4 linked regions of the Homo sapiens genome follow. The protein of the gene in region 3 interacts with the protein of the main gene of each other region in a pairwise test. Each region holds a gene or a part of one and is shown on either strand. Other genes may lie near its edges. The genes, in order: ZNF330, WWOX, OTX1 and CPT2.

The links.
Region 1: the proteins of OTX1 (region 3) and ZNF330 interact in binary tests that used the Homo sapiens proteins (3 or more experiments, as listed by UniProt).
Region 2: the proteins of OTX1 (region 3) and WWOX interact in binary tests that used the Homo sapiens proteins (3 or more experiments, as listed by UniProt).
Region 4: the proteins of OTX1 (region 3) and CPT2 interact in binary tests that used the Homo sapiens proteins (3 or more experiments, as listed by UniProt).

The regions. Positions count from the first base shown.
Region 1 is NC_000004.12:141,223,895-141,230,926, reverse strand, and holds part of ZNF330 (zinc finger protein 330), read right to left. Parts: intron 6,441-7,032; coding exon 6,421-6,440; intron 6,321-6,420; coding exon 6,250-6,320; intron 4,161-6,249; coding exon 4,081-4,160; intron 1,357-4,080; coding exon 1,230-1,356; intron 762-1,229; coding exon 657-761; intron 1-656.
Region 2 is NC_000016.10:78,109,653-78,116,684, reverse strand, and holds part of WWOX (WW domain-containing oxidoreductase), read right to left. Parts: intron 6,908-7,032; coding exon 6,850-6,907; intron 1,710-6,849; coding exon 1,531-1,709; intron 1-1,530. UniProt on the Homo sapiens protein: Putative oxidoreductase. Acts as a tumor suppressor and plays a role in apoptosis. Required for normal bone development. May function synergistically with p53/TP53 to control genotoxic stress-induced cell death.
Region 3 is NC_000002.12:63,053,802-63,058,335, forward strand, and holds the end of OTX1 (homeobox protein OTX1), read left to right. Parts: intron 1-130; exon of another isoform or gene 131-245; coding exon 246-397; intron 398-1,699; coding exon 1,700-2,515; 3' UTR 2,516-4,030; downstream 4,031-4,534. UniProt on the Homo sapiens protein: Probably plays a role in the development of the brain and the sense organs. Can bind to the BCD target sequence (BTS): 5'-TCTAATCCC-3'.
Region 4 is NC_000001.11:53,192,093-53,199,823, forward strand, and holds the start of CPT2 (carnitine O-palmitoyltransferase 2, mitochondrial isoform 1 precursor), read left to right. Parts: upstream 1-4,731; 5' UTR 4,732-4,851; coding exon 4,852-5,003; intron 5,004-7,731. UniProt on the Homo sapiens protein: Involved in the intramitochondrial synthesis of acylcarnitines from accumulated acyl-CoA metabolites.

The sequences.
Region 1 (7,032 bases), on a different chromosome or scaffold from region 3:
TGCTATTGTTTTATATGGTGTCTCATTTCAATGAACCTTCCAAGAAAAAAACTATGTGTAAAGATGATACTATTACCCAGTCAGCAATGCTGGCTCTCAACTGGAAAATACGTGAGAATTTTGTGTATAGGTTAAATACAGGTGCCTGGCACCCACCACGGACTTAAAAGATAGAATCTCCAGGGATGAGGCCTGGACATCTACATTATTTTTAAAACCTCCACAGGTATTTTTGATATACAGTCCTGTCTAAGAATCACTAGAACCAACTAGCAGAAACAAACAGGGTGGTATCTCTTACGGGAGGGCATTTGGAAATGGGAAGGAAGGGTGAGGTTTGGTTTTTTATAATAATTTGAAGGTAAAAATGACATGTGGTACTCTGAACCACGAAAGGTGTAAGTCCTGCAATGCCTGATCAAATCAAGCCTACAAAATGAAAAACTGGCCCAACCAATATGCCACTGGCATCCCTGCTGAAAAATTTACAACTATATTCTGACTGTTCTGTTTTCTAGAAACAGAAAATAAAGACTGAGTTAAATTACAGTTCATGAGAAGCAGTATAAAAAAACTTGATTCCTTTTTCATTAAGATTAATAATTATACTATTCAGAATCTTGGGTATAAAGAACATCTAATACTTAAAAACTTACATTTAAATGTTTCTGCCTCTAAAACCTGGCAGCTGGCTTGATGCTCAAATTGATCATCTTCACAGAGAAAGTTATGGCAAAAAGAACAACTGAATATTCTGCCTCCTATTGGATTAAAAAAACACAAATGTAATTAAGATAAACTTTAATTTAAAAAAACTCATATCTATAATACTGCTTAGAAGAGATGGTAAGTTACTTTGGAGATACACCAAAATTGTTCAGCCATTTTTATTCTGATAAAAGCTAAAATGAAAACTGTTGAAGTCCTTGAAACTGAACTGAAACTGAGAAAAGGGGGCTCTTACTCTCCACTAGCTACCCATATAACACTCACAATGCTCAAAGAGACTACCTGCTCCACCACAACTTCCCTCCATGTTTGGGTAAACAATACTAGCATTGACAATAACAGACAGTATAGATCCCTTCTCTAACTACACTGATAATCAAAACAGTACCAGTAGTTAGGATTGACAGTATCCTGAAAAAAATCTCAAAAACAGCATTCAAAATGTTTCAAAGTCAACATTCACCTATAACAAAGCTCATTACTTGTGTCTAATGACTCACCATGGTCCCACACGCCTCGTTCACATTCAACACACTCAGCATCGGTAAGAGGGCAGGCACAAGCATGTGTACTGAGACATTTCCTACCATGGCAAACCCAAGCTTCACAGAAGTCACATATTGCACCCTGTAACCAAGGAACAAGAATACATAATCATTATCACCTGACCACCTGCAACCATTCTTTAACCACGGCAACCATCAAAACTGTATACATTTAGCAATTTATCAACCCTCAATGATAGTAGGCCGCTTCATTTAAACATTTTACTACTCACTCTAAGCCAAAAATAAAAAGGGTTCTCTGAAAAACAACTTCTTAACAGCTATCCACAATATACAAAACTCAGTTACATATCAAAAGAAAAAAAGGTAAACTGTACACTTATCCTAATATTATTTAATTAAGCCAAAGAGATGGAAGTATTTTCCTCAAAATGAATTTAATTCAAATAAAGTTTGAAGGAACCAACAGCTTAAGCTTTCTTGTCTATAATAATTCCTGTAACTACACTGAATTTTTAAATACTACCATTTCTGATTTTTAAAATACCTTCTTATCTATATATTTGCATAGCTTTTCTAGAATTACTGAGAAATACGAAACTTCTGCCAGCTTCTTTTTTTCTCTTATGACAACTTATGTTTTAATAATAATTACATTTCTTTGTGGAAAAAATTTGAAGTAAAATATATGGAACTAAAATACAGGGTAAGATTCTCCAATTCTATATCAAGAAAAGACAATAACAATATGTTTCAATAAAACATTGACACCTACCAAATATTAAAAGCTAGAAAGAATCTTAAGAGAGTAGGATCAGACAATCTTTCCTTTATAAAGGAAAAGCATGGGGCCCAAGACTAAATCCAAGTCCCGAGTTGGATTACAGGTGAGGTGAGATTTAAAGCCAGGATTTCAGAATCTCAATTCAGTATTCTATTATTCAAGGCTCTGAAACAAATGTAGTAAACAACAAATAGGAAGAATGTTTTTTGACTTGCAAAAATGGGTTATCAGTATAGCTAGCAAATCATCAACTATATCTCTTGGATCAGCCAGGGTTCTTGCAAAAAAGAGATGGTACTCTCAAACTAGGTAATCTAGAAGAGTTTTAAAGAGATAATTTGCAGAGGACAGGGAAGTTCTTAGGACAAACAGGAGAGGACTACCTGGCCATATAGGGAGAACTGTGGTCCTTAGAGAAAGGATAAAACCAAACCAGGATAACCTGGTACGGAGTGAGATGAAGGAATAAACACCCAGATCTTATTCTCCTGCTATTCTCAGGGGGAATCTGGGGAGGCAAATAGAAGATATCCAGAAAATCACTTTTCTAGAATTTACAACTAAAGATATATGACTCTACTTAAATGTTTTCTTTATGTAAGAAGAAATTATTCACATTCAAAAAACAGTGATTTTAAAAAATGAATTTGGCTGAACTTAAGCTACCAAGGAAGACTGAAAGTGTTTTTGAATAAAGATAACTTGACAATCCTATACTTAAAATAAAGAGCAATTCACAAGATGATAATTCTCGCTCCTTGCTTCTATAATATATGCACATATGAAATATATCATAGGTCTCCCTCATAATAGAAGTTTACATGTTCTTGGAAATTTACCATAAATAAAATATTCCATTTGACATAAATATAGTATCATTTTCCTCATAGATTAAAATTTGAACAAAATTTTATTTGAACATAAAATCATACTGCAATACAGTAAAACTGGTTAACTCATATTTAGAAGGAAAACATGTTTCAGGAAAAAGAGCAAAATACATCACATAATCCAGTTGGTTTTATTATTCAAAAAGCTGAATTTACTTTAAAAAATCCTATATGTAATGAAGAGGTATGTTAAATATATACACTTTTTTGAAATGTAAAGTTTTAAAGAACACTATTATCCTAGGTTCGTTTGGAACTAAGTTGCTTATTTAACCAAAGGCTTAAACGTTGGTTAAGCAGGGCTTTCGGTACACTAAATACTGTTTTGTGAAGTCTGGTTAAGAGATATTAGAAAGGTACCACTGAGTATATACCCAAAGGATTATAAATCATGCTGCTATAAAGACAAATGCACACGTATGTTTATTGTGGCACTATTCACAATAGCAAAGACTTGGAACCAACCCAAATGTCCAACAATGATAGACTGGATTAAGAAAATGTGGCACATATACACCATGGAATACTATACAGCCATAAAAAATGATGAGTTCATGTCCTTTGTAGAGACACGGATGAAGCTGGAATCCATCATTCTTAGCAAACTATCGCAAGGACAAAAAACCAAACACCGCATGTTCTCACTCATAGGTGGGAACTGAACAATGAGAACACATGGACACAGGAAGGGGAACATCACACACCACAAACCGGGGACTGTTGTGGGGTGGGGGGATGGGGGAGGGATAGCATTAGGAGATATACCTAATGCTAAATGACGAGTTAATGGGTGCACCACACCAACATGGCACATGTATACATATGTAACAAACCTGCATGTTGTGCACATGTACCCTAAAACTTAAAGTATAATAATAATAATAAAATTTAAAAAAAAAAAGGTACCACTGAGAAATGAAATTCTGTTTAGATCAGCATGAAAAGTTTCCATGCCTTGTATGTTCCCTAATAAGAAAGAAAGAAGCAGCTAGAAACAAGTGGGTACTAAGGGAAAATCATACAAAAAGCATGCCACTCATAATCCAGATAACTACAGATTGATTGAAACAAGGGACAAAGCAATGATATTTAGAAAAAAATAACCACTGATCAGAATGACATTTTCTTATCCTTGAAAACGTACTAGTCTAAGAGATAATAAGAAGCTTACCACCATTGCAAGGCCAGTACTGTATACACCAGCATGCTTTATGACACAGTCTGAAGACTTCATCATGCACTTTGTTTTCCCTAATGAAGAAAAACATTTGCACTGTTAGTCTTGCAAAGGAATACATACCAGTACTCACGAATTCCTCCTTTTATCCAGCCCAAGTTCCTGAGGAAATAATTTAAAAACTAATGAAATTGAATCAGTATTTACTGCTTACATAACTAGAAAGAGAAAATGGATATAACTGAGACTTCATTACTCGAATCAGACTTTTCAGATTATACATTTACTAATAAATCTGTAAAATGAACTATACAATATATATGCTAATTTGTACTAAATCAGAAATTGCAGGTTATGCTTTGTAATCTAATGATCATTTTAACAGTTTAAAAACTTATCAATCTTCAGATTATTCAAAACAATTTTTAAAGGAATGCTTTTTATAACAAATTTTACATTTTATAATTCACAATAAAAACTGTGGTTTGAAGTTATTTCTTTCCACAGAATAATACCTCAAACCAAACCAAATAATGATTATGTAACTTATCGAGTTAATGTAATTTTATCCAAACATAAAAATTTACAACGAAGCCCCCAGTTAAACATTTTCCCAACAAAATTTTGAAATAGTGCCCAAATAAGCACAATAAACAATACGGTGATACAGCTACAAATCACCACACAGCCACTAAACCTCTGATCTAGAAGCAAATTAAATTACCAACTCAAAACACTATCAGGAAATTTGCTTATCAGATATTATGTGAGAGTTAATGATGACATTAATCATCCATCTGAGACTCCACAAAATGGAACACAAAAGAAACAATTTTCCGTTATCTTGATTTCCTAAGGAACAAAGTTAGTAGGAAATGGGAAGAGAAACTGGAAATGAGAGGCAGCAGCTACCCAACTGTTCCATGTCCAACACTAAGAATCAGTAAATGAGAAATGTATCCATCTAACAACACTACAAAATTTAAGCCCAGAGACACTGAAAATAGGGGTAAGTCCTAGCAAGAACTTACCTATTAATCTTCCACAAACTCTGTTTCCTCACTCTACATTCATTACTTTTTGCAAAACAAGGCTATGAAAACTACCATATGAGTGTTCCATATAGGCCAGTTTTCTCTTTTTCATTAATTGTGGAATTGAAAAGATCTTCTTTGAAAGCTAGAACTACATTAGAAATATTCAGGGATATAGCCCTAAACACTACTAACTTTCTGGAATATTATTACATATAAACACACTTAAATGAGCATACCCCAAATTGTTCTACCTGAAATTATTATTATTATCTCATAAATAAAAGCAATACTTGTTCATCAAAAGTTGGGGGGGGATGTAAATCTAGAGTAATAAAGTTAATTGGGTTTCTTTGTTGCAAGTCTTCAGAACTTCTAACATATAAATATATAATAGAAATCTCCCAGATGAGAATGAAAGGAGGATGCATGCAGTATTTCTCAAATGTATATCGATATATATTTTTCAAGAAATATCCATTAATATTTCAGGAAGTCTGTGGAAGACTATTTGGGAAACACCCATCTTGCTAACATTTAGTTTTATTTTGTATAATCATTTTGGGGTACAAGTCTCCACCTATACTTAAGAACCGGGCACATGACTTAAGAACTCTATTTAAATCACCTGGGAATACATGTGAGGAAACTCATGAATCATATGGTAAGCATCAAACACAAAAACTACTGATCACAAAATAAGTACCAGGTAAATGTGGAATAAAATTATTCCCAATGGTCTAACACACTGCAGGTAATATCAGCAGGAATCAAAATGTAGATAAGTAAACAAACAGATACTGACAAGACTAAGGTAGTATAACTAAAAGTTCAGGATCACCAAATGTTATGTCTGAAATCTGATCTTTCACTGTTTAAAAACACTTATTGGTAACCTGTATCTAAATTGTACCTTAATTATTTTCCAGCATTACATCAAAGAGACAAAACCAAGGCTTGATAGTTTTTTGGTAGGCAAAATAACATGTTTTGTTATTTTGTTAATGGTAAGGCATAATATTATCAACAATTGTAAGCACTGTAACCAATAGCAACAAACCCACCCAAGTTCAAATTGTTGAACTACCAGTTGATAAAAAGCATATGTCCTTAATTATTACAAACTTACCACACTGTGCACAAATTGGTAACTTCTGTACAGAATTACAAAAGTAGCAAAATGCTCTATTCTTCTGCCGCCTTGTCATGTAAAATAAAATTTTAAATTATGGTCAATGTCAGATAAAAAGTCAGAGGGACAATTTTATTAAAGGTAGATAGAAAAAGAAATAAAATTTACCTCTGACACTTGTCACATTCCTGTAACATATAAAAATATCACATTAATTTTTCTGCTGACTGAAAACTGCAAATTTACTTGTATTACAAAGAATAACCTGCTTTTCAGGTTAAAATTTAAGTGACACTACACCAAAGCCCCAACTCCACCCATGTATACAAGCACCTACCCATGCTTAAAATAACAAAGGTATGCGAGAGTGATACTCCGGGTATATGATTCCCTGAAGAAGTGGCATTATCACAAAGGAGGCTAAATACATTGGTAGTTTCTTTTTCAATTGTTTGTAAGGAATAAAATACCACAGAATGAACACAAGAACTATCCTTTTGATAGTTAAGTACATTCTAAGCCTTATGAAACGTTAAGCACATATTATTCCAAATGAAGTGGGTGACCCTTAAAATAATGCATTTATCTAAGGCACCGTTCCAAAGAGAATACAAAATAATAAAGTTCACAGAAAATCCAGATTCCTAAACATGGTTTTAAAAGCTCTCCACAATCTGGCCCCTAATCACTTTCCAAACCTTCTTGGCCTATTCTTTTTAGACTCAAGTCACTAATGGTCAGCCATTCTCCAAATATGTCTTATATTCTCTCTTCTCCATG
Region 2 (7,032 bases), on a different chromosome or scaffold from region 3:
ATATGATCAACAAAATGTATTCTTCTTAGATTGGGGATCCAGCCATTGTTTTAAATATTACGCCATCAGTTTTGACTTCAATGACAATTATATAAAATTTACTCCAATGCAGAAGTTCAGACAAGTGGATTGAACATATTTGGAGCCCAGGATGAGGTATGAGAGTTGATTTGAAATAAAATCCTTTCAATTCTTAAAAAAAAATTTCCATTTGCTTCTTTACCTTCATAGGCAAGTACAGTAAAAAAATTCTCCACTCGGATGGCAACCTGGTAGATTTCACACCTTGTACAACACAATAATTGACCCTTGAACAATGTATTTTTACCTCCTGTGCCTCCCTAATCATGCTAGAAAATATTTCTGCAGCTTCAAGGAATTGTTCAAAATTAAGAAAGAAGTGCAGATGGTTAATGGGTACAAAAAAGATAGAAAGAAAGAATAAGACCTACTATTTGATAGCACAACAAGTTGATTATAGTTAATAATAACTTAATTGCACATTGTAAAATATCTAAAAGGGTATAACTGAATTGTTTATCACTCAAAGGATAAATTCTTGAGGGGATGGATACCCCATTCTCCATGATGTGACTATTTCACATTGCATCCCTGTATCAAAACATCTCATGAACCCCATAAATATAGACACCTTTATATACCCACAAAAAATAAAAATAAAAACAAAATTAGGAAAGAGAAACAAATGAGTAGAGGAGGGCATCAAGGGGGCCGTGTGAGGGCTGCGGGGGACCAAAAGGACAGAGAGAACTTGACAGAAGACAGCCAAATGCAACGTTTCATATGTCGACAAATCTGAAGATGCATATCTAAACTCAAAGCAGGTGGTTCTCACTGATTCAGATACTTATGTAAATAGATCAAAGCAAAATCAGAATAAAATCCTATGAAGAGTTATGGTTTGCTCCCGCCTTGCTCCTGTCTCCTTAATGGCCCATCATATTGAAGCAAGGATACCCTCTTGAGCCATCTACCCATGATAGTCCCTGTGGGTAAACATTGGCAATTAAGAGGTGAAGACAGGAACTCATTCTCCAATTTTATAGAGAAATAAGATCCTGTGCCCAAAAGAAAATGATATGCTCAGTGACCAGTCGAAACCTGTAGTATCCTTTGTTCCAAAGACATAATACCTTGTTGTTCCCCGTATTCTATTACCAATCAATTTTGGTTTGAATAACCCAGGTAATTGGAATATGCCCATACACCATGCAGACCAGGTCAAAAACTCTTAGACGGAGCCTGTTGTCTCTCATCCCTGAATACCAAAATAGCCACAGTCTTTTGCTGAGTGTTCAGCTTTCAGAGACTTCAAGGTCAGCCCCTACACAGGCTTCCATGACAACATTAGGATTTAAAAAGAGGTAGTGATGTTAATGAAACGATATCTGAAAAGGATAAAAGTCATGTTTAAATCAGAGAACCACTAAACAAAATTCCATTATAGCTAGATCTAAGTGGATCTCATTATAGCAGTCCCAAAGATAAATAACTAAGTGAAGAGCCTACCTATTCCTGAATTAGCTCCAGTGACCACAACCACTTTGCCAGTGAAATCCCGGCCCTGGAGAATTTCCATGGCAGTGGTGCTGCCGTCGTATCTTTGCCGGGTGGTTGGCTTGGTCGGATTATCATCCACAGTAAACGCCAGTCTTGGGTCCAAGTAGGTGGTTCTTTTATTTATATGGCTGCCCAAAAGAGAAAGCAGTGAACCCACAGCAATGAACACAGGCATTTATAAATATAAGACAATCTTATACTTTAGGAAAACCCCATTTTTCATAGACCAAAATGCTTATTCCTTAAACCTGAAAGAACTGGGGCCCACTGAATCTATCTTCTGGCCTCCAGAAGGATCACATTTGTGCCAAAAAAAGATAGTCATCGAATCCTTTCCTTCAGAACTGCCTATAACATACGCTGTAACATACAATAACTATTGCCATGTATCCTTAGATCTCAAAAAAGGCTTCTTGAGAAGGTTTTGGGCTTTTATGTAATTCATGTAAATGTAGCTATAAGATCTGTCAGCCACTCTTTTCAGTAGATTTCAATTAAATCTCTTAGCCCTGTGCAAGGGCCTAAAGACGTAGAGAAGTAGAAAACTCAAAATGATAAAGTCTTAGTTGTAAATAAGAAACCTGCCAACTACCAAAATTCTAACGATTTTCATTTTAAGACTCTGCACTCATACCTCCTACGAGCACTCATTTTGATTTGGAATTGATCTAAATCTTGTAGAAATGGTATTAAAATATACTGGAGGCTGGGCACAGTGGCTCACGCCTGTAATCTCGGCAATTTGGGAGGCCAAGGCAAGAGGACCACTTGAGCCCAGGAGTTCAAGACCAGCCTGGGCAACATAGTTAGACCTCATCTCTACAAACACTAAACAAAATTTCAAGTGTGATAGCACACGCCTGTAGTCGCAGCTACTTGGGAGGCTGAGGTAGGAGGATGATCACGTGAGCCTAAGAGATCAAAGCTGCAGTGAGCCATGATTGTGCCACTGCACTCTAGCCTGGGTGACAGACCAAGACCCTGGGTAACCATTAAAAAAAAAAAAAAAAAAAAGGCACATATGGATGAAAAGAGTACTCCTTATAATAGAATTTACTTTTTATATCTTAAATGTATTCTTGGGATATGAGATAAAGACCTCAGAATATCTTAAAAACTATTAAGAAGCCTCTAAATATAGATGAAATTTCATATTTTAAAAGTATGTGTGTGTAAAATTAGTTTAAAATATATACTCATCTCCCTATAAGTACCAAGACTCAAGAGTAATAATCCAACCTTTATTCTAATTATTACCATCCTCATCCTCATTCTATTTATAACAACCTTAATTTGTGACCCCAATATTATACACACACAACAGAGCAGTTCTATGCTAGACTGGCTCAAACTGGCTTACAAGAGCCAAACGTGACTATCTCTTCCCAATTCCTCACTTCACCTTGGCAGCATGAAATCAGCTATGGCCAAAGTATTTATACTGTGGAAACAAACAGTGGCTTTTTTCCCCCTGAAGACCTGGTGCTAAACATTTACCAGCACCCCACTGCAACAGGCTCAGAAAAGTGAGAACTAGCCAGGGGAGCCAATTTCCAGGTTCCCCCCAAAGCCCTTGCTTACTCCTCTAGATTAGACCAGGAGCTGGCCAAATCTGGCCCACTGCCTGTTTCTGTAAATAAAGTTTTATTGGAACACAACAACGCCCATCACTTGTATATTGTGTATAGCTGCTTTAGCACTACAAAGGCAGAGTTGAATCATTGCAACAGAAACCATATGCCCTGCAAATCCTAAAACATATTATCTAGCCCTTTACAGGCAAAGGAGACAGCCCCTGCTCTAGACGGGAGGCTCTCAAGCTAGGGAACATCAGGATCCCCTGGATGACTATTAGAGCGCAGATTGCAAGCCCCACCCCAGTGCTGATTCAGTAGGTCTGGGGTGGGGGCCTGGGAATGTACATTTTTATTGAATTCCCAGGTGATATTAATGCTGCTGGTCCAGGAACCATGCCTGAGAACTGCTGCTCTTGGTTGATTAATACCCATTTCAGGGAGTAACTTTCCAAGCGTGAATGCAAAGGCAAAGACTGCACAGGAGAAAATTGATTTGACTACATAAAAAATTTAAGAAATTCAGTCAGGTGTGGTCGCTCATGCCTGTAATATGAATGCTTTGGGAAGTCAAGGCAGGAGGATCGCTGAAGGCCAGAAGTTCAAGACCAGCCTGGGCAACATACTGAGCCTCAGTCTCTACAAAAAAAAAGTCTTTAAAAATTAGCTGGGCATGGCAGCATGAGCCTGTAGTCCCAGCTCCTCAGAAGGCTGAGGCAGGAGGATCACTTGAGTCCAGGAGGTTGAGGCTGCAGCGAGCTGTGACTGTGTCACTGCACCTCAGCCCTGGATAAGAAGAGCAAGACCCAGTATAAAAAAAAAAAAAGAAAGAAAACTTGGAAAAAAAAAAAAAACATTTTCAACATTTTCAACATACAACCAATGCGTTGATACCCTTAATTAGTTGAGGAAAAAAAACTTTCACAAGTTAGGCAAAAAGCCTTTTAACAAATAATAGGCACTCCCACCTATCCAACTGCTAGACAGCCCCGTCTTCCTGGGGCTGCCTATGGTGGCCTGGGAGACTTCTCTCAAGCAAGCTTTGGCCTATTTGCTCTCAATATCAGTTTTGCACCAAAAGTTCACCAGGTTTGCTCAAAAAACACACATGTCATTTGAACTTGTTACTGTAACTACATTACCAGCAAGCTACTATTACACAAACTGATAACATGGGAGGTGAAAAATAGTGTCAGTGGTATCTATGAAAATGTGGTCGAATGCTTTGGAGAGCCTCAAAGACAAGCAGCTAAAAAAAAAGTTTTGGTTCAATCAACTACAGTGAAAATGCTAGAAAAATACCATAAAACTCCCAAATGATGTAGCAATCAGATTCTTTGAAAATACTGTGTTTGCTCAACCTTAAAGTTGTAGGGTCCAGCCCTACTGGGCTTAGCGGGTGTTCTCCCCGTGTGCAGAGACGAGGGATTGTAATAAATAAAGACACAAGACAAAGAGATAAGGAGAAAACAGCTGGGCCCAGGGTGGGGGCCACTACCACCAAGATGTGGAGACCGGTAGTGGCCCCGAACGGCTGGGCACGCTGATATTTATCGCATACAAGACAAGGGGGCAGGGTAAGGAGGGTGAATCTTCTAAGTGATTGACAAGGTGAAGCAAGTCACGTGATTACAGGATAGAGGGCCCTTCCCTTTTAGGTAGCCGAAGCAGAGAGAGAAGGCAGCATACGTCAGCATTTTCTTTTCTGCCCTTAAAAGAAAGATCAAAGACTTTAAAACTTTCACCATTTCTTCTACCACTATCTACTACGTACTTCAAAGAGGAACCAGGAGTACGGGAGGAGCATGAAAGCGGACAACGTACGTGACCATTGAAACACAGCACCACAGGGAGGGGTTTAGGCCTCCGGATGACTGTGGGCAGGCCTGGATAATACCCAGCCTTCCACAAGAAGCTGGTGGAGCAGAGTGTTCCCTGACTCCTCCAAGGAAAGGAGACTCCCTTTCGCGGTCTGCTAAGTAACGGGTGTCTTCCCAGACACTGGCGTTACCGCTTGACCAAGGAGCCCTCAAGCAGCCCTTATGCGGGTGTGACAGAAGGCTCACCTCTTGCCTTCTAGGTCACTTCTCACAATGTCCCTTTAGCACCTGAGCCTATACATGCCAGTTATTCCTAGGTTATGTTAGTAATGCCACAAAGAGTAATATTAAAAGCTAATGATTAATAGTGTTTATAGTAATGATTGATAATTGTCCATGATCATCTCCATATCTAACCTGTATTATGACTATTCTTATTCTAACTACTTTCTTTATTATACTGAAACAGTTTGTGCCTTCAGTCTCTTGCCTCGGCACCTAGGTACTCTTTCGCCCACATAAAATGAAAGTAGAAATTGTAGATGTTATGTTACAGGCATGCTTAGGGGAAGGAAGACCACACTGGATCCATGCAAGTGGACTCACACTCAGAGGAGGGCTGGCCCGACCCCTAAATGTTGGTGTACTTGAATCAAATACTGAAACGTTTATGTTACATTCATAACTTTAAAAAAAAAAAAAATTCCTGCTCAAATCAACTTCTATTAACCAACCAATCCTAATCCTGTCAAAGACTATTCAAGCTTCTAATTTAAATGTTGACAGTTGTGAAACATTAATTCTCCTCTTAACTACGGTGGTCAAGAGTACAGTCCCTGGAGCAGGTGCTGGGCTCAAAGCCTGGCTGTGCTACTTCTTTGCTGTGGGATCCTTAACAAGTCACTTACCCCCTCAAGTCTGTGTCACTGGCAGTAAGCTAGGGATAATAACAATACTACCTCTCAGGGCACTGTGGGGATCCAATGACCTAATGCTACAGATACAAGATGATTAGAATCAGGCCTGGCTCATGCTATATGTTGGACAGGTGGTTACTATTGCTGCGTGATACCGGAATTTATCCTAAAGACAGAATCAGAGAGGTGAAAAAGTCTTACAGATAAGGATGCTCAATACATTATTTATAATTATAGGTTCTCTATAACAGGAATTTAGCATTAATGTCCAATAGGCAATTTGATAAATTATAGTATATCTGTACAAAATAATAACTCTAGAGCTGCTAAATAGCATCTTTTTGAAAAATAGATATGGATACAAGAAAATGCTCATAATATATTACATGGAAAAAGCAGGTTACTAAACAGTCCACACAGTGCATTCCCTCTTTTTTTTTTTTTTTTTTTTTTGAGAAGGAGTCTCATTCTGTCACCCAGGCTGGAGTGCAGTGGCGCGATCTCAGCTCACTGCAACTTCCGCCTCCTGGGTTCAAGTGATTCTCCCGCCTTACCCTCCCGAGTAGCAGGGACCACAGGCACGTGCCACCACACCCAGCTCATTTTTATATTTTTAGTAGAGACGGAGTTTCACCATGTTGGCCAGAATGGTCTCGATCTCTTGACCTCAGGATCCACCCACTTCGACCTCCCAAAGTGCTGGGATTACAGGCATGAGCCACCATGCCTGGCCTCCCTACTTTTTTTTTTTAAGGATGCGTGTGCGGGGAAAATAGAAGAATAAATCTAGCGATGTTAAAAGTTCCAGCGATGTTAAAAGTAGTCACTTCTGCTAAGATTACAGATACACACTGTTATACTTTGTATTTTTCTACAGTTACTATGTATTACTTTTATAATTAAAAATTCCTATTAAAAAGCAAAACAGCTGAGAGTGGTTTCTTTGCAGACACTTACTCAACAAAAAACACTTGTCCGTTCTCATCAGTTTCTTGTTCCCATCCGTATGGCAAATCTGAAACACAAGAAAGACAGGTCTACAGGTGCCAGGGAGAAGTAAAGACCATCCCTGGGTCAGGAAGGGAAGGAGCCCTCCCAGCCCCGCCCCCAAGCCTGTCCCTCCCACCCAGCAGTTGTCAC
Region 3 (4,534 bases):
ACCTCTGAGAGGCATAGAGAGGGGCAGCCCTCGAATCTTGGAGACACTGGCTTCTAGTCGCACATCTGCACTTTCTCCCACCTGTGGCCTCTCAGGCTCGGCCGCCCGAGGGAGTTTCTTTTATTCCCAGTTCGGCTTTCTTTTGCGAAGGCCGAGATCTGGGCCTGCCAGGGGCCTGCCCGAGTCCTCTATCGCGGGTCCACGTGGCCACCAATGACCCGCGGCGCCCCCGCGTGTCCCCGCAGCCACTCCGCGGAAGCAGCGGCGGGAGCGCACCACCTTCACGCGTTCACAGCTGGACGTGCTCGAGGCGCTCTTCGCCAAGACTCGCTACCCTGACATCTTCATGCGGGAGGAGGTGGCGCTCAAGATCAACCTGCCGGAGTCTAGAGTCCAGGTGCGCACTCCCCGGGCTCCAGGGTCTGGGTAGGGGAGCTGAGGCTGCTCGGGGAAGGTCTAGGAAGGCTCTTGAGTAGTTCTTGAGGAGACCATCCTGTGGGGGTGGGCTTACAGACTGGGCAGCCGCTCTCGGACTCCCCCTAGCGCTGGGCCCCAGCCAGGAAAGGGGGCAAAAGTTAAAGGAAATGGCTTAGAGCCCTGGATTCCGCCTTTAGCCCTAGGGCGCCTTCGGTGTCGGTATCGAAAGTACTTTTTAGAATTGCCGGAGGACTAGGGAAGCTCCCGAATGTAAAGCGCCCTGCGGGCCTGACACTTGCCCCTGCTTCTTCGCCTGCCCCAGGACTTGGCAGTTTCCCTTAGAGGCCTGAATTCTGCCTCTGCCCTTGTCTTCCACCCCGGGAATCCTAGAAATGGAAGAGCGGAGATTGGCTGGAGCCTGGTGCTCTGCCTGGGTCTCATTAGACGCTTCCTCTGCTTACAGAGGATGCTAAGTGCAAAATCCTGCTGCCGGCTTTCTTATTTCTGTTTTTGAGATGAAAGGGTTCCGATGATAACGTTCGGATTCTAACTCAGAACTCTCCTCAAGAGTCTCGCCTCCTTTACTCGAAAGCTTGAGAAGGGGGACCAGGAATGCAGTGCCATGTGCTGGGGCTCTCCTAGAAGAGTAACCATTCCATTTGGTTCCCCACCTGGAGCCAAAGGGCCAACGAAATCCCACCCAGGCTTCCTTCCCGAGTCCCTCAAGTACTACCTCTGTTTAGCCTCTGGCCTTGCTCCTACCCCCACCCAAATACTCGCCCTGCCCAGTTCTGGCCTCCAGGAGCTGCTCAGTGAAACGGCTCAGGCCCTAGACTTGGTGACTGTTCCACACTCTTCGGCTCTGTACCTCTCCACTGTTGCCTGAGCTCTGTTAGTAGAAAACTGGGCCTCCAAACACACACGGGGCCTCCAAACATACACGGAAGCAGCCAACAGCAGCAATTTAGAGATGGCAGAACTTCTGACTGGGCAGACTGAAATATTCCGCCCTAGGGCAGAGTTGCGGTAGGGGTGGGGAGGTGCGCATCCCTGCTCTGGAGCCAGCTGAGGAGGGGCTTTGAGCAGAAGGATGGGGGAGGGTGGAGGAGCTGGGAACCGAGGTAGGGGGCAGGGTCTGGCCAGGCCAGAGACAGGAAGGGGCGGAGGCCTCGGTGAGAAAGGATTGCGATATTCTGGACCGGGAGTTGGGTCCGCGGGGCGGTGGAGCAACAAGCTCCCCTAGCTCCCTTTGACCCACTCTCCCCCATCCGGCCCACTGCAGGTCTGGTTCAAGAACCGCCGCGCCAAATGCCGCCAGCAGCAGCAGAGCGGGAGCGGAACCAAGAGCCGCCCAGCCAAGAAGAAGTCCTCTCCAGTGCGGGAGAGCTCGGGCTCCGAAAGCAGTGGCCAATTCACGCCGCCAGCTGTGTCCAGCTCTGCCTCGTCCTCTAGCTCGGCGTCCAGCTCTTCCGCCAACCCAGCGGCTGCAGCGGCTGCGGGACTAGGTGGGAACCCGGTGGCGGCCGCGTCGTCGCTGAGTACACCAGCTGCCTCATCTATCTGGAGCCCGGCCTCCATCTCGCCAGGCTCAGCGCCCGCGTCCGTGTCGGTGCCGGAGCCATTGGCCGCGCCTAGCAACACCTCGTGTATGCAGCGCTCCGTAGCTGCAGGCGCCGCCACCGCAGCAGCCTCTTATCCCATGTCCTACGGCCAGGGCGGCAGCTACGGCCAAGGCTACCCTACGCCCTCCTCTTCCTACTTTGGCGGCGTGGACTGCAGCTCATACCTAGCGCCCATGCACTCACATCACCACCCGCACCAGCTCAGCCCCATGGCACCCTCCTCCATGGCGGGCCACCATCATCACCACCCACATGCGCACCACCCGTTGAGCCAGTCCTCAGGCCACCACCACCACCATCACCACCACCACCACCAAGGCTACGGTGGCTCTGGGCTTGCCTTCAACTCTGCCGACTGCTTGGATTACAAGGAGCCTGGCGCCGCTGCTGCTTCCTCCGCCTGGAAACTCAACTTCAACTCCCCCGACTGTCTGGACTATAAGGACCAAGCCTCATGGCGGTTCCAGGTCTTGTGAGCCCAGGAATGAAAGAGGAGAAGAAACGCAACTACCTGCGCCCTCCGTGGTCCCGATCCTGTTGCTGCTGCTGCACCGCCCGCCTTTGCCTCGTCTTCTCCAAAACTGAATTTTCACCCCCCAAAAAGATGTCCATTGCCTGCACTGCCGCCCCCATTTTTGTGCCACTTGCTTGGGGGGATGTGCAAACCCACCCTGCCCCTTGGATGGGGGGACCGGTGCTTCGGCTTGGCCTACACATTCTATACAGGAGAGATGTATTATTTCCCCCCTTCAGCCCCTACTAAACTCTTAAGCCTCCCCTTCCAGTCTTTCTGGACAGCTATTAAGCACTTGCAGCCTTCGGAGGCTCTGCGCTCTGATCCGCTGTTTGAGCCCAACACTTTAATTTATTCTTTCTGGACACTGGAGTCACTAACTGGCGTGTTTCTGCCCATTGGAGCACCCGCACACTACTCCAAATCAAAACCACTAAGAGTTCCTCCCGCGCAGACTGCTGCCCCTTCAGCTGCCCTCGATTTTGCTCCACGCCTGCCGGCCAGAGCCTCCCGGCGTTTCTTCCGCCCCAGCGGAGTGCGCTGGGGCGCGCCAGGGCTAGGCCCGCCGGAGGAGCGCGTCCCCAGCCTTCCGCGCACAGAGCCGCATCCCGCCCCGCCCTGCGCTGGACTGGTTCAAGCTTCCGCCTCGGCGGGAACGCTGTACATAGTCAGGTCCGTTCCAGGGACCACTTAAACTTTTTAGTTGCTGTTGGTTGGTTGAACTGAACATATCTTGTCTTAGCACCCAGGAAACAGAACTTTAAGATATATACAGCACATATATATATATATACATATATATATACACATATATAAAAAACAAAAGCAAAAAATATTTTCCCTCTGTCCGTCCCCCTTCTGCTCTTCCTCAATCAATGGCGCTTTTTCTTTTTCAGTTGTTGCAAAGCTGCCCTGCCCTCTTCACATCTTCTCCCTCTGTGTATTTATTGAAGAGAACCGCTTGGTTTCAGGAAGCTGGGCGCGGGATATCCGAAGTGTGGAGGAAACAGACAAGTCAGGGTACAGAGGTGGGGGTTGGGCAGGGGCGCAGGGCTGACCCCCTCACCCGGTCTAAGCACAGGGTCGCAGTTCCAGTTTACAAACCTAAAACAAGAAAACCAAAACCAGGGAACAAAACAACAAAACAAAACAAAATCCGTAAAAGTACAGCATTAGGGAAAAACAAACAAACCCAGGCCCCAAACCCAGTTCCAACTCCTCTGTCGGCTTCTCTCTTTCAACACCCTTGTTTTGTCTAGTGAGTTTTTAGTGCACCTTCGTTCTCCGAAATCTGCGGAGAGCCCGCGCGCCTGTGTATCAATTTTGGCTTTGGCCGCTTCGTCCAGTAGGTGGGAAAGTAATTTGTAAATTTGATTTGTCTGATGTGAAGATCACAAATTACTTGTTGAAATGTAAGGCAGTCCCCCTCCTCCTCTTTATCTACATTACTTCCCGAAAATAAATGCAAATTAATGAACGGCTTGTCAGTGTTGCTCTTCTGATTCCAGCCCGAGGTCCTGGTCTCGGGGGGCTAAAAGCGAGGGAAACTCCGTGTTAATAACCCGCGTGTTAATGACCTGCGTGAAGCTGGAGGCCAAAGGATGAGGCGGGAGGACTTGGCAAGAGAAGTCCCCAGAAACTTTCGCTTAGGGAGTGTCTCCCCCCACCCCCACCACGCCCCTCCGCGTCAGCCTGGCCTCTTCCCCCAGGCGTTTTGACCCCGCATCCCCCCTCGCCATCCAGGACAGAGACAGGTGTCAGGACTCAATTCCCGAAGCAATTCCTTTCTCTTCAGAGGCAGGAGCCTGGCACTGATTTCTTCACCCTAATTGCCTGCACCAGAAAGAAGAGGGGGAGGGGAAGAGGGTCGGGAGGCGGGAAAGGATAGCTCTGTAATGCTCTCAGAGCTGAGCCAAAAAGGAAAAGAAAGCAAAACGACAAAAAACTGATCCGTGTCCTGCATGTTGGCAGCAGACAACCT
Region 4 (7,731 bases), on a different chromosome or scaffold from region 3:
CCAACATGGTGAAACCCAGTCTCTACTAAAAATACAAGAATTAGCCAGATGTGGTGGCCTGCGCCTGCAATCCCAGCTACTCAGAAGGCTTAGGCAGGAGAATCACTTGAACCTGGGAGGCAGAGGTTGCAGTGAGCCAAGATCCCACCACTGCACTCCAGCCTGGGCAAGACAGTGAGACCATATCAAAAAAAAAAAAAAAAAAAAGAAAAAAAAGAAAAAGAAAAAGAAAAAGAAAAAAAGAAAGAAGAAAAGAAAAGAAAGGAAAGGAAAAAAGAAAAGAAAAGAGGTTTAATTGACTCATGGTTCCACAGGCTGTACAGGAAGCATGGCTGGGGAGGCCTCAGGAAACTTACAATCACGGCAGAAGATGAAGGGGAAGCAGGCATGTCTTACATGGCTGGAGGAGGAAGGAGAGAGAGTGAAGGAGGAGGTGCTACACACTTTAAACAACCAGATCTCATGAGAACTCACTCACTATCAAGAGAACAGCAAGGGGGAAATCTGCCCCCATGATCCAAACCGTGTCACCTGCCTGTATTATCTCTGTGTGTGTGTGTGTGTGTGTGTGTGTGTGTGTGTGTGTGTGTGTGTGTGTGTGTGTGATGGGGTCTCACTCTGTCACCCAGGCTAGAGGAGCATGATCATAGCTCACTCACTGCAGCCTCAAATTTGAGGGATCCTCCTGGGCTCAAGCTATCCTCCTGCCTTAGCCTCCCAAGTAGCTAGGACTGTGCCTAGCTAAAATACCAAACTCTTGATTTCAGCTCCTTTTGTCATCATTTGTCCATTTCTTCTACAATCTTAAATTTTTTTGACTGGGGTTTCTATGTTGCTGAATTTGGTGACATTTTCACTAACCCAGAACACACACACACACACACACACACACACACACACACACAGCCCCATTAAAGTTCTTTCCTTCAATGAAATTGGCAAAGGGGCATAAAGAAAACTGGAACCTAAGGACCCAGTGAGGAAGCAAAGTTCCACTTTCCACTGGAAACTGGTCTTTTACAATAATCCCATTGCACCTAGGAGCTGGACCAGGCTGTTATTTTAGAGTTTAAAAGTTGTCCTCCCTTCTTCTACCTGGCTACTGGCTTGGGGCTTTAGGTGGGTGAGGCCTACCTCCACAAGAAAAATCCACAGTGAAAATGGTGACAGTTGGAGGGTGCTGGAGTTGAGCTTAGCCTTCCTCACTTCAGAAGAGCTAAATGCATACAGGAGTGCAACAGAAGTCAGGAATCTATTGCCAGAGGGGCCAGAGAGGGGCAAGGGCCTTCCTGCTCTAGGGCCCTTCCCCAGAAGATGTTAGCTATGGGTCAAGTCTCTACCTCCTCCCCAACCCCCATTCTCCATTGCATCCTTGGAACCAGGAGCCCAGAAACCTGCCAGCCCAGATGACCAGGACCATGTTTGAGATGCATAAATTTGGTCCTCTGGATCCTTCAAAAGTACACTGTATTTGTCACTCCCCGTAGACCCTCATGCAATAAGTTCTTCATGCTCTGTACATCGATTCTTTTTCTCCAGCAGTTCTGAGCAATGCTTCAAAAACGAAACATCAGATTCCTTGTAAAGTTAAAAGGAACAGATTTTTTTCCCACATACCATGAATTTCTCATTGATTGGTTTAGTTACAATATCTAATGTGTCCACAGGTATGTTTTAAAAGTTCCTTTATGGGGCAGAGAGAGCATTTTTTTAATACTCTGGTTTCACTTTTTTGCATTTAAATACTTTCTCACATACTCAATATTTATAAAAGGGTTAGAGTTCATTTTAACAAATCCCATTAAATAGGCAGGGCTTTTCAAGGTCTTGCCTATGAATTTCCTCATTTCAAGCACTGTTTAGTCCAGGTAAGCTCCAATAGAACCTGAGAACTTGGGACTGCCAGGCCAACTCTAGGTACTAGTTCCTGACATTTCTTTGAATATTTGGGTGGTCACATTTGTTTTCTTTGGTCATACTTACCCAACTGGACCTCTTTTTTGTTGAAATGTGAACTCTACTGCTAGCCAGTTAAAGTTCATTGTTTTTCAGAACTTTGATTTTGAAGATGAATATGACTTTAACCTGGCCATCATGTACTGCTTTTTCATAGTTAATTCAAAACAGAGCAGAACTCTGGGGATTAGTTCAATAGAAACAATGTATTCTTCAGGATCTTTCTCTAAGTAGAGGAACTTTCTTGACCCTTACACAGCAATATATGGACTTTTTGGACTACCAGCTCATGGTTATTCTTAATGTGATCCAGACCCCAGGGCCATCCCCAGGAAAAGGAAGCAAAGCACCTCCCCACAGTAGGCCTGTGCTAGACACAGTGGACACACAGTGGAAACAAGGTCCCTGCCCAAAGACCTCAAAATTTATTGTGAGAGATGAATTGGTAATTAAATAGCTGATTATTTTAAAAGCCCTAATACAGTTGTGTTTCATGTACATAACTGTAAATGAATGTAAAAAGTGCTGTAAAATCACAGTGGGAGGGATTCATTCTTGCAGTGAGGAAGAAGGATGAGGATTGAGGAAGACTTCAAAGAGGTGAGTTTTGAAATAGGGTTTGAAGGACAAGTAAGAGTTTACTAGGCAGAGATGCATGGAAAGAACATTCCAGGCAGCAGAGACAGCTAAAATAAATAAATAAATAAGTCGCAGAGTAAGGAAAAGGATGGGAATGAGAAGTGGTTCAGTGTTACTACAGCATAGAGCAAGCTTGTCCAACCCACAGCTCAGGATGGCTTTGAATGAGGCCAACACAAATTAGTAAACTTTATTAAAATATGAGATATTTTTACAATTTTGTTTTGTTTTTGCTTATTAGCTATCATTAGTATTAGTGTATTTTATGTGTGGCCCAAGACAATTCTTCTTCCAGTGTGGCTCAGGGAAGTCAAAAGATTGGACACCCCTGGCATAGAGTATTTTGGGGTGACATGATGGGAGCTGGAGAAGTAGGTAGGGGTCAGAATTCAGAAGGCCTTGGACACCAGCCTAAAGGCTTAGAGTTGCTCCCATTGGCCATGCACTCACCAAAGGTGTTCACGTCCCTCTTTTGGCTGTTAGATTGGATGGGCTCAATCTTTTGGCCCTCTGTCTCTAGAATAGAGCCGCTGCTTTTCTACTGGGCCCACTATTTCTTCCTGGTCCTCTGATCCCCTTAGCACTACACAGATCTCGATATTTGCCTCGGGTATCAAGGCTCTGAAAATGATCAGGATTTAGAGGAGATGGCTCATTTTCAGAAAGAGTTTTATATTCTCCCTCTGGCCTTATACACTACAGGCAAATGGCACCGATGTTTTGGAGTTGGGCCAGTTGGGCCTTTTCTCCCCTCAAGAGAGGAGGATTCGATATTCAGTGTTTCTGAATTTCATGCTTAGTTCTTAAGCCATTTCCCATTTGCCCTAAGAAATAAGAGCTGGCAGCAAGCTGCGCTGTTTTTTTCTAAACGGGAAATGGGTTAAGCATTTGTGATCACCACTGAATGAGTGCCAGAGCTGGTTAGTGATCTTCCTGTTCAATCCGAGGTCACCTAACTAGATAACAAAGAGCTGAAACTAAAAGTCCGGTCTCCTGACTCCCAATCCAGTACTCTTTCTGGTGTGCTCCAGCTTCTGGCTCTGCTTAGCCAATTATGGAACAGACAGAATGTACTTGGCTGCCCCAAACGGCTAAAGGGCAGTTCTGTTCCCAAAATGGAATTCTGTTGTGCCTCAAGCTAGGCAGCATAATTGTGTGTCTTTTGGTAACTCCCTGTCTTCTTCTGTAAAATGGGAGTAGAGCCTACTTAATCCTGCAGCTACTTCTAAGATCAGGGATTGGGGCGTGGTGGGCTGTTCTGCAGCTGTTTTGTGATGGATGAGGGATGATAGATCTATGTTCAAGTAGCGGAATCTTAGAGTCAGGAGTTGGAAGGAATCTTGGAGGTGGTCTGTGGTGACAGGAAGCCTCTTCCAATAGACTGAACACGGAAGACTTCCTAGAGCCGGAGGACAAGGGTTTCTTTCCTCTTAGCAGTGAGCTTCTTGTTTTTGGAAATGCTCAAGCCAAGAATGGATGTTCAGGCAGAGGGGATTCCGCTCGGAAGGGGCTTTCTGCACTGAAGTGGTGGCCAGCGGGAAACTCCAGGTTTCCAACTCCTGCACAAATCCTTTCTAATATCCATCCACTCAGGTGAGCTGGCAGGGCAGTAGCTGTGCAGGGTTCAGGGTCATTATATGTCAATGACCTTCAGCACGGATTACTAACAACAGTAACATCCGTTACCGTTTACTGCTTTCCTATTAAGCACCATGCACTGTGCATAACATGTTATCTTTATCTCATATCTAGAATTTTGGGAGGTACTTTGAATCATTACGATCTATCTACTTCTTAGGTGAGGAAATAGAGGTTTAAAATTTAGTCCACAGTCTCGCAAGGATGGAGCCTGGATCAAATTTTGGGTTATCAGATTCCAATCACGTTTCTTAGCTTTTCTTTTTTTTTTCCAACTCCAGTTTCTGTCTTGCTCCAAAAAAGGGGAAGGAGCGGCTGCGGCGCTCGGTTTCCCGCCTCCTAGGGAAGGGAAGGGAGACGAGCAGCGCGGAGGCTGGGGCCCCCTTCCGGGCGGGGCCTACTAGTGGGCGGGGCCTGTCAGTGAGCGGCCCCTGCCCGGAAGGAGCCAGTCCGGGGCGGAGCCGATGGCCTTACAGGGGCCGGAAGTGGCCTGCGGGCGGAGAAGTGCCTCAGGAGTCCTGACGCAGTGTCTTGGGCGCTAACGGCGGCGGCGGCCTTGTGTTTAGACTCCAGAACTCCCCACTTGCCGCGTTCTCGCCGCCGCAGGCTCCCGGGACGATGGTGCCCCGCCTGCTGCTGCGCGCCTGGCCCCGGGGCCCCGCGGTTGGTCCGGGAGCCCCCAGTCGGCCCCTCAGCGCCGGCTCCGGGCCCGGCCAGTACCTGCAGCGCAGCATCGTGCCCACCATGCACTACCAGGACAGCCTGCCCAGGTGAGCCTGGCCTCCGGGTCCCCGCCGCCCGCCGCCGTCCCAGGATCGGCCCCAACCTGACTGCAGTCACTCATGACTCCTCTAGTGAACCCGTTTCCGCCCCCAAGCCCCTACCATGGAGGCTGCCACAGCCCCTAATCTGGAAGTCTTGGGACTTTTCACAATCTCCTAGCACAGGAACCTCAGAACCCTCAAATTCTCTTCCAGAACCCCTCGATGCTATCTCAGATTCTCCATCTTGAACGCTTCTCAGATTCCCTCTCCTTTAACCTAACTTCCAGCCAGCTATCCTGAGTCCTCTTCTCCCTGAAAAATGCCAGACCTGCATATTTCCAGCGCCGCTGTAATCCCTCGACTATGGTGTCTCCTGAAGTACTTTAATGACTGCCTCACATTCCTACCCGGAATATGGGTAGGCTGATTCCTAATACATCATGGTTACCATTCCTTAACTTCTCCCAGCACCGCCTTCACCCCTGTCACTCAGGACCCTCAGCCCCACCTCCCATTTCTCCAGTACTCTGTTCTTTCACCCCCCATGAGCCCCCACAAGCACAGCCCTGAAGTGTTCACCCTTGTCCTCAACTGACCCTCCCCCATGTTTTTAAATCTTTAATCTCCTAAATCCAGTGTTCACCCGGAAACCTTTCACTCTCTCCAAGCCCTCCTCAACAGGTTCCTCCCCTCAAAATATCCTTCCTCACCCACAGTACCCCTTGTAAGTGCAGCTCACCCTCACAGAATTCTAGACACCACCCTCAGTACCCCATCCACACTCCATCATACTCAGATCCAGGGTCCACCCAAATTTCTCTTCTCCTCCTCACCACTGGCTACCCTGCCTTCGAAACACTTCACCCAGAATCGACTTCCCCTCTGAAAAGAGCCCTAGTAAATCCTCTTCCCCTTCCCTCCCCCAGTACTTTCTTAAATCCAGCTTCCAGTTCTTCCAGCCTTCGAACTCCGCTTTCGTCTGAGTTGCCAGATCTCCTTCTTCAATATTAGAAATTTTCTTCACCCTCTAAACCAAACCTAAACTAACTTCTAACTTACTGAGTGAGTAACTCAGTTCCTGGAGCCAAGTTCAAAATTTGTCTCAAAGACCCTTCTCACCTTATTTCTCACCAAACTGCCCTCAGGGATTCCCCACACTCCAAGAGCTAGAGGCCAGGCTTCTTCCCCATGTGTGGAACATTGTGTCACAGGCCTCACCCGAGCTGCTGGGTTGTTTTTCTCTGCATCTGGGACCACTTAACCCAACGTCATCACTACATACCCTCACCCTCTCAGGAGGATCGAGTGATTCTTGTGAAATTACATTTTGTGCAAACATCTAAGACATGAAAATGAGATTATCTACACGTGGCAGGAGGGAGGAAGAAAAAGGGGCTTTGTGCCTGTGGCATAAGCCTGGTACATGCTTCCACCCTGTCAACCTGTGTGTATGAGCTGAGCCAGTATATGGGTGAAAGGTGAGGACTGACAGAACCTGTCTTCACTTGCCAAGTTCAGAGTCAGATGGTCACTGACTTTCAGGCAGGCCTGGGCCCCACCCAGGTTTAAGATCAGAGGGATTTTCTGCACTTTAGAATTGGAAAGCTGGAAAGAATATTCAAGATTATTTATTCCAACCCCATCCATAGCACAGTCTGTAGGAATCTGGAGGTACCAATTCAAACTCCAGTTCAAATAGTACCACTAGTCACCTACGCATAACCTTAAGCAACCAACCTCCCCCAGACCTCCATTACCTTATTTGTAAATTGGGAGTTAGATGAGAGATGAGATTCCTTCTGTCGCTCAGATTCTAGACTGGTAAAATGTATAATCTTTCACACTCACTCATTGATGTCACACTTGGTGAAAAGCCCTGACTTTGAGGTCTGGTAGAATGTAGTTGCAGATTCTGGATCTGCAAGTCTTTAGCTATAATTTGGGGCAATTCTGTTCACTTCATTGAGCCACAGTTTTATTTTGGTTTTTTTGAGACAGTCTCGCTCTGTTGCCCAGGCTGGAGTGCAGTGGCCCTATCTCGGCTCACTGCAACTTCTGCCTCCCGGGTTCAAAGGATCCTCCCGCCTCAGCCTCCCAAGTAGCTGGGATTACAAGCATGTGCCACCACACCCAGCTAATTTTTGTATTTTTAGTAGAGATGGAGTTTCACCATGTTGGCCAGGCTGGTCTCAATCTCCTGACCTCAAGTGATCTGCTCTTGGCCTCCCATCTGGGACCACAGGCATGCACCATCATGCCTGGCTGATTTTTTGTATCTTTTATAGAGACAGGGTTTCGCCATGTTGCCCAGGCTGGTCTTGAACTCCTGGACTCGAGCAATCTGCCTGCCTCGGCCTCCCAAAGTGCTGGGATTACAGGTGTGAACCACCGTGCCCAGCTTCACTCCAGAAATTTTTAAGTAGGACTTTTTTAAATCAAATTGCCATTGTCTCTAATCTAGAATTTTGTTTAAAAGGAAGAAGGTAAACTTTCATGAATATTCCTACTGTAATAAAACTAAATCTTAAACATATGTAGGCAACTGGAATTATGAGGTAGCTGAGATAGTATTTGGAATTTTTCTGAGTAAGTCAGTGAATGTAAGGGGATCTGTGGTGTTAAAGTGTTGTAAATGGGTACTTAGTGCAGTCTAAGTCCATAATGGCAGTAAATAATTGATTTATTTTTGTCATATTATGGATAAACATGCATTACAAATAAACTGATGAACCAC